Linked DNA regions of Homo sapiens: region 1 is linked to region 2. Evidence: fine-mapped expression QTL. A gene starts in region 2. The other region holds a variant in brackets. All regions are shown on one strand. Distances are from middle to middle. Region 1 overlaps LAMC1 (laminin subunit gamma 1). Region 2 holds the start of LAMC1 (laminin subunit gamma 1).

Region 1 (4,000 bases), 110 kb after region 2:
AAATATTAAAATAGTTTTAAAAATCATTAAAGGCATGCGTCTTCATAAGCTTTTTTTTTTTTTTTTTTTTTTTGAGCCACAATCACTCTGTTGCCCAGGCTGGAGTGCAGTGGCGCGATCTTGGCTCACTGCAACCTCCACCTCCTGGGTTCAAGTGATTCTCCTGCCTCAGCCTCCCAAGTACCTGGGACTACAGGCACATGCCCACCATGCCCGGGGTAATTTTTTTGTATTTTGAGTAGAGATGGCGGTTCACCGTGTTAGCCAGGATGGTCTCGATCTCCTGACCTCGTGATTTGCCCACCTCAGCCTCCCAAAGTGCTGGGATTACAGGCTTGAGCCACTGCGCCCAGCCAAAAAATTTTTACATTATCAAATAATTGAGTAACCTTCCAAGCAGGACCACCATATATAGTTAGGCAAGAGTTTGTAGAATGTCACCTCTGCACATACATTTGGTAGCCAAGTTCCAAGTTGGTTTTTTCCAAACCTGTATTCATCTTCATTGGTCTTACCTTTGACTTCTCATCTTTTTTTTTTTTTCCCACATTCCTTAGAAAATTTAGACCCCAACACCGAGCATGATGCTGAAATATGAATTGGTCAATTTACTTAATGGTTTTTATATATTAATAAAACCTCATGATACATGAGAGTTTTAATAATAACAGACTTATATTTATCTTTTGATTTGTTAGGACCTGAGTATGAGATTTAAGTTGAATGAGCATATTAATAAAGAATAATTTGAAGAACTATTCAAAAACAGAGATCAGTTTGAAAGAAATTACACTGATATGCTGGCACATGGGGGTGGCAAAAGAGTCTATTTAGTTTAAAATACAAAATGAGTTTAATTTGTCATACTTCAACTTATGTTTTAAACCTAGTTTTTTCTGGGTTTTGAAAAATGTTCGGCTTTTAGGGCTGGCAGCATTTTTAACAACATTGTAGATTTATGACTAAATTGCATGTGCTGGTATTAAAGTCAGTCATTCTCACCTTCATTAAACATTCCTTGGGTGTCTTCTCTTTGCCAACCACTGCATAAGACCAGCGATATAGTGGTGAGTAAGAAAGAGTTCGTAGTCAAGTGGACAGATGGACGCACGGTTGGAGGTGTGATGAGTGCACAGTGAAGGACCTACTGGGTGTGGTAAAGGCTGTCCAGCTATGGCAGGGGCTTTGTGGAAACCTGGCAGAAAGTTGCGATGTTTAGAAGAGTAGAGATACATAGGGCCTCAGATTTCATGTGAGATGATATGATCCTCTTCAGATAATTTACAGACTTTCTTCTGCAAACCATTTTAGATGTTGACCAGAATTTGATGGATCGCCTACAGAGAGTGAATAACACTCTGTCCAGCCAAATTAGCCGTTTACAGAATATCCGGAATACCATTGAAGAGACTGGAAACTTGGCTGAACAAGCGCGTGCCCATGTAGAGAACACAGAGCGGTTGATTGAAATCGCATCCAGAGAACTTGAGAAAGCAAAAGTCGCTGCTGCCAATGTGGTAAGTGATTGCAAACGTCTGAGGTGGGGATGGGGGAGGCCCCTGGGGTTTGTAGCAAGTCTGTTACTGGCAGTGGAGTGCTTCTTCAACTAAATTGACTCCATGCATCTTTTTATTTGTCCCTAAATATGGGGCAGAAAAGCCACATTGCTCATAGTTGGCATGAAACAGTTATTAAAAACTGGATAAAAACCAAGGGACATCTGGGTTATTTCTCTAGCTTTGTTCCTTCTATGGAACTAGGCAGTTTAATCTTCCTTTATCCTTTACTGAAAATAGAATCTGCAATCAAGGGTGCTGATATTAAATAAAGATCTCTGAAAATAAGAAGAGGTATTCTTGGGGCCAGGCGCGGTGGCTCACGCCTGTAATCCCAGCACTTTGGGAGGCCGAGGCGGGTGGATCACCTGAGGTCGAGAGTTCGAGACCAGCTTGACCAACATGGAGAAACCCCGTCTCTACTAAAAATACAAAATTAGCCGGGTATGGTGGTGCATGCCTGTAATCCCGGCTACTTGGGAGGCTAAGGCAGGAGAACCACTTGAACCCAGGAAGCAGAGGTTGCGGTGAACTGAAATTGTGCCATTGCCCTTCTGCCTGGGCAACAAGAGTGAAACTATCTCAAAAAAAAAAAAAAAAAAGGTAGAGGCATTCTTTTTGCCCTCTAACAAAAATTTAGTTTTGACTCTTGCTTTATTAAATGTAAATAATTCAGTCCTTTGAGAATAAGTGCTTTATTTCCTGTGCAGTCAGTCACTCAGCCAGAATCTACAGGGGACCCAAACAACATGACTCTTTTGGCAGAAGAGGCTCGAAAGCTTGCTGAACGGTAACTTCTAGATCCCTGTTTAATGGTTAAGTTGTGGCTTCTGTTATGG[G/T]GTGTGTGTGTGTGTGTGTGTGTGTGTGTGTGTATTGTCTTATCCCATAACCCATAAACACTTTCTACATAACCCACTTTTGCACACTTTGCTCTCTTTTCTAAGATATTATCAGCTGTGTATACTCTTTTCTTCCTTTTACTTTGACATTAGAATATTCACTTTGAATATTAGAATACAATGGTTTGAAGACAAATCATATTTATATTTCTCAAAACCATAATATTTTTAGATTTTTAACTTATTTAAGACTGTAGTAACTGAATGAAACTAGCAGATTGTTGTTAATAAAGATTAGGCATGGGATTTGTTTTTAACTAGGTAAATGATTTCTTGCTGGCATACACAATTTTATATGTACATTACTCTCAAATAATTAAATTTAAAAGTAGTTTTTCTGAAGAATTATAAACATTTTCTCTTATAAATGTATACCAATAATTTTTTTGGAAAATATTCTCATCTCAGTTTTAGAATGCTATTCATAAATTCAGCCCCACTGAAATGATCACAAAATTCCAAATGAATGACGTTTTCTAATATTTGTAGAATTGTTGCCCATGTTAGTATATGTACATATAATAAAGTAGGCCGGGAGCAGTGGCTCATGCCTGTAATCCCAGCACTTTGGGAGGCCAAGGCGGGTGGATCACCTAAGGTCAGGAGTTTGAGACCAGCCTGGCCAACATGGCGAAACCCATCTCTACTAAAGATGCATTAGCTGGGCATGGTGTGTATGCGTGTAATACCAGCTACTCAGGAGACTGAGGTAGGAGAATTGCTTGAACCGGGAGGCGGAGGTTGCAATAAGCCAAGATCACGCCACTGCACACCAGCCTGGGTGACAGAGCGAGACTCCATTTCAAATAATAATAATAATAATAATAATAATAAAGTAAGCATTACCTGAATTTTACTTATGTCCCTATCAGATGGTTGTTTCATGGCTTATTTTTTGTTTTATCTGTATAGTCATAAACAGGAAGCTGATGACATTGTTCGAGTGGCAAAGACAGCCAATGATACGTCAACTGAGGCATACAACCTGCTTCTGAGGACACTGGCAGGAGAAAATCAAACAGCATTTGAGATTGAAGAGCTTAATAGGAAGTGAGTATAATTTGAAAGTGGTTTACACCCCTTCAGGTGTTCTGGTAAGTAACACTAGTTCAATGAAAAATTAAATGCTGGTGCATTCAGGGCATACATTCATGCAGTAAGATTTCCTTTGTTAATCATGCTTTTGAAATGGAAAAGTAAGTAGAGAAGGGCATGTGAAGCCACAGAGATTTGGTTTGATTCAATTACTGTAACTACAGAGAATAGTAACAAGATGAGCCATGATACTTAAAATTGTGCACAAATAAAGAAGAAAAAATATAATAGAGTAAGTAGAGGAAACATAATTGAACTACAAATCTTTAAAGGGTGTCTGAAATAAGAAAGTATATGGTAAGCCATACATTATAGAAAATTTTTTCTTTTTTTTGTTGTTTTTGTGAGATGAAGTCTCACTCTTGTCCCCCAGGCTAAAGTGCAATGGCGCGATCTCGGCTCACTGCATCCTCTGCCTCCCGGGTTCAAGCGATTCTCCTGCCTCGGCCT
Region 2 (4,492 bases):
ATGTTGGCTAGGCTGGTCTAGAACTCTTTACTTCAAGTAATCCACCCGCCTCGGCCTTCCAAAGTGCTGGGATTACAGGCGTGAGCCAACGACCCCAGCCGGCCCGGCTAATTTTTGTAATTTTAGTAGTGTCAGGGTTTCACCATATTGGTTAGGCTGGTCTCGAACTCCTGGCCTCAAGTAATCCCCTGCCTCGGCTTCCCAAAGTGCTGGAATTACAGGCGTGAGCCACCGCGCCCGGCTGATAATGAAATGTCTAAGCACTTAAGAACGTGCATTCAAAAGACTGGAGTTTTTTGAAAAACAGGGTAACCTGCAGTAAAAGAAATTCTTACACACTTTCACTTTTTTTCTTTAAATACTGTCTAGTAGACTGTGGCATCTCTAGGTGGCTAAAATAATTTGTCGATAACATCAAACATCTGGTTAGTGTTCAAATTTCTCAAATTGTCTTAAAAATTTTGTTTTAACCGTTGATTTGTTTGAATCAAGATCCAAATAACGGAGCAAAATTTTTATCATCAAGCCCACTGGCTGGTTACACTTTACCTCTTTTCAAAATAGATGTTTGTCACTGTGACACATTTCCATAAGCAAGAGAATTGAGAGATTAATTCAAGGTCTCTTTATGTGCTTTACAAATATCAGATAAGCTCTGGTAATTAAGTTACGGAAAATTCGCATAAGTAATATCTTGATGTTAGTCTTGGACATTAGGACTCAAAAGGCAGCAATGACAAACCCATTTATGTTGATTTCACAGCCTTTGGGGGTCTCCTTGTCTTTATTTTGATTGTTGGAAATAGAGACCCACGCTTTGGCCACTATATAACAAAGTACTAAAAATGTATAATAATGCAAATTCACTAATATGTTTATTAAAATATAAACAAGTTTATTACAAATCTGTAGCTTTATTCACAACTAACATCCTTATTTTTGTCCTATATGCCCACGTTTGTCCTCAAGTACAACGAAGGACTGAGAGAGCATATAATCCCCTCTAGGTGTAAATGAACGTATTTATTTCGCTTCAACTCATGTATGAAAGGATTAAAAAATTATTAGTCCCCACAACTTAATTCTCCCAAAGAGAAGGTGCCAAGAATGAGGCACCTTTAGCCATGCATAATCTCCACCCATCTCATCAAATAAACGGAACAGTGATGAACATAACTTGCTAAGTAAGCTCAGCCGTGTAACAAGACCCTAGATTCCCCTCCCTTCTTCATCCTACCAGAACATTATCCTTAAGGTTTTCCTAATCAGCAGTCTGCGTCTAACTAACCCTAACTATCCAGAGTCACCTAACATATACTTATTTCCTTGTTTCAGATTCCCATTACGCCTATCTTAATGGGACAACTGGGTCCGAAATTATGCATGTGTTTTTTTGTTTTGTTTTTGCGGTGTACTTATTATCCGCACTTTATCATTAAATTCCTGAAAAGCTAGAACAAAACAAATCCGTGTCATTCACTATGTGCATCCTCTCTGCTTGGGGACGCCAAGGGTTTCAAGCTGCTGCCTCCCTGCCCTGGTCTCTGCTTGCCGTATCCAGCACTGGGTAAGCGCCCAGGTTCTGCTCCGGGACTAAAACTCATGATCTTCTGGCTCAGGTTCTGTGAACTGAGTCATTCTGGCACTGAGAATATTCCGTGACTCAGCAGGCCCGAAAAGGAGGATGTCAGAATCCACATAATTTCGAGTCTTTTAAAGGCAAGCCGAGGAACACAAACAACACAGTGGAAGAATTTCGCAGTGGGTCGTGCGTACCCAAGGGAAAAATTCATTCCATTCCCAGCCTTTTCACTTCCTTCCTTGCCCCGGTAAAACGACTGGTTACACTTTAAATCAGCGGCAGGAAATCGCTTCACGAAACTCATCTGGCTGCTGCGACCAGGCCCTTCTGATTCTCCAGGGACCGTGTCGGCCCCATGAACGCCCCGGGACCTCTGTTCGGGAGGGGCTGGAGCGGGGCCCCGGGCAGCAGCGGGCGCTCCCGGTTCGGACCCACACCTGGCCGGGCGGGGACCCTCTTGCCGCAGCCCAAATTGGCGCGAGGCCCCAGGGACGACCCCGAGCGACCTCCTGACCCGGCATCGCCCCTCTAAGGCGCCCTCCCCCGACTCCTCCCGCAATCCGGAGTCTCCCAGGCCGCGGAGCCCAAGGACCCCAGCGACTCCCGCGCGGGGAGCGGGTCTGCGAGGCCGCCCTTCCCTCCCGGCATGCACCACCCAGCCGCCCTCCCCTCCCCTCCTCTCCTCTCCCCTCCCCTCCTCTCCCCTCCTCTCCCCTCCCCTCCCCCAACCCCCTCCCCCGGCTCCCCGCCCACCTCGCGCGCCCCTCCCCCCGGGTCGCGCGCCGCGGGCCCGAGCGCGAGACGCCGCTGCTCCCGCCCCCGCCGCCTCCTGGAGTCGCCGGGGCGGACGCGCAGTCCATGGGGCGCGGTGGGCCGGGGAGTTGCCCCAGGGGCCGCGGGAGTTGCTGAGAGGAGACAGGGTTGGGCTTTCTCCTCGCCCAGACCCCACCCCACCCTGCCGACCCCACCCCCTGCTCCTTCCTCCCCGGGGGCGCGCACTCGGGCACGCGCTCGGAAGTCGGGGGTCGGCGCGGAGTGCAGGCTGCTCCCGGGGTAGGTGAGGGAAGCGCGGAGGCGGCGCGCGGGGGCAGTGGTCGGCGAGCAGCGCGGTCCTCGCTAGGGGCGCCCACCCGTCAGTCTCTCCGGCGCGAGCCGCCGCCACCGCCCGCGCCGGAGTCAGGCCCCTGGGCCCCCAGGCTCAAGCAGCGAAGCGGCCTCCGGGGGACGCCGCTAGGCGAGAGGAACGCGCCGGTGCCCTTGCCTTCGCCGTGACCCAGCGTGCGGGCGGCGGGATGAGAGGGAGCCATCGGGCCGCGCCGGCCCTGCGGCCCCGGGGGCGGCTCTGGCCCGTGCTGGCCGTGCTGGCGGCGGCCGCCGCGGCGGGCTGTGCCCAGGCAGCCATGGACGAGTGCACGGACGAGGGCGGGCGGCCGCAGCGCTGCATGCCCGAGTTCGTCAACGCCGCCTTCAACGTGACTGTGGTGGCCACCAACACGTGTGGGACTCCGCCCGAGGAATACTGTGTGCAGACCGGGGTGACCGGGGTCACCAAGTCCTGTCACCTGTGCGACGCCGGGCAGCCCCACCTGCAGCACGGGGCAGCCTTCCTGACCGACTACAACAACCAGGCCGACACCACCTGGTGGCAAAGCCAGACCATGCTGGCCGGGGTGCAGTACCCCAGCTCCATCAACCTCACGCTGCACCTGGGTAAGCGGTGACAGCCCCGTCCCCTGCTACTGCTCGCCAGCAGCCCAGCTCCCGGACCGGCTCCGTCCCAGTGGCCGGCCTCACGGGCGCAGACGGCCGCGTGTTTGCTCTCTGTTCCCCGGCATGGGCCACACAGAAACTCCTTTCTCCAACTTCTTAAATAGATACTGCTTTTAACATCCCGTGAGGGCCAGGATGTTCCGCACGAGTCTCTCTGCTTTCCTGTTCTTTCTGACTTAACGGGATTCTGGCTCTCTGATTATTCTGCATTTCGGCTGTTAGGATTGTGATTTCCCCCTTTTTTTTCTGAAGCGTTAATCAGAAACTCCCATCCCCACTTTTCTCTTTGCTAGCAAGGTCATCACAGCGCATTCTTGGATCGGAAACAAGAAGGTCCGCCTTAAACACTTTCGCCTTTAAAATGTTTAGATGTCCTTCCAGGGCTGAGGGTGATTGCTCTGTTGAGTTAAGGGGGAATTTGAGGGGAGCAAATGCCTTCGCTGCCTATATTGCCTATGTGTAATTAAAACATAAATTCACTTTTGAAGTTATTGTTCTTTATAGCTGCTCAGCCTTAATTAAGAACCACAAAGCGATTTGACTGCTAATCCTGGTGCAGAATGAACAAAAGGAAGTGCACTCACTGTAATTGCTGGGCATAGCCTTGTCCCTGGGTAAAAAGGCTCTCCTTTACTGTCTTCCCTTTTGCTTTCATTCAAAGCAACTGTAGAAACACGTGTAAGTGATGTTTCAGAAATCAGGAAAGGGATGTGTAGAAAACTTCATGGCAGGGCAGTGGATTGAGGATGGACATATGTATCTGGAAGCACCAAAAATAATGTTCGGTCTAGCTAAGGTTTTCTTCATCATTGAGATACGTAAATAGGCAGAAAGTTTCATTATTGTGTTTAACAGAGGAATCTATGTGTGAGAAACACGTTTGACTTAACACTTCACTCCCCATTGCCTTGGAAGGCTTGATTATTACCAGTAGCTGGTACTAATGAACTTCCAGAGAGAACAGACTGCCTCAAGCCATTCTTCTGTCAAGGGAGGGTAATTTTGTAAGGCTAATATCACTTAGGGGTGTTGGAAAGGAACATGTTGTAGGCAAATGGTTCTTTTGATCATGATTTTGCTGCTCTCCGGTACACTAAACTTTATGTAAGTATCAGGATTCCAGAGAAAGAATTGGACTTA

The links. PIP is the estimated chance that this variant, and not a neighbour inherited with it, causes the effect.
Region 1: its variant is the best candidate, but not a certain one, in a credible set for the expression of LAMC1 in lung (TOPMed, PIP 0.81).

The regions. Positions count from the first base shown.
Region 1 is chr1:183,129,033-183,133,032 of GRCh38, forward strand. It overlaps LAMC1 (laminin subunit gamma 1), which reads left to right. Exons shown (of 28, transcript NM_002293.4): 19 at 1,312-1,517; 20 at 2,267-2,346; 21 at 3,368-3,505. Among named protein-coding and RNA genes, the nearest start is that of LAMC1-AS1, 10 kb to the right of the region's middle. The variant G/T (reference allele first, on the strand shown) is at 2,396.
Region 2 is chr1:183,020,843-183,025,334 of GRCh38, forward strand. LAMC1 (laminin subunit gamma 1) reads left to right here and starts at 2,578. Exons shown (of 28, transcript NM_002293.4): 1 at 2,578-3,292. The coding sequence starts at 2,875. RefSeq lists enhancers at 38-537, 1,275-1,830, 1,831-2,385, 2,941-3,494 and silencers at 1,897-2,286, 2,317-2,706, 2,757-2,826, 2,847-2,986.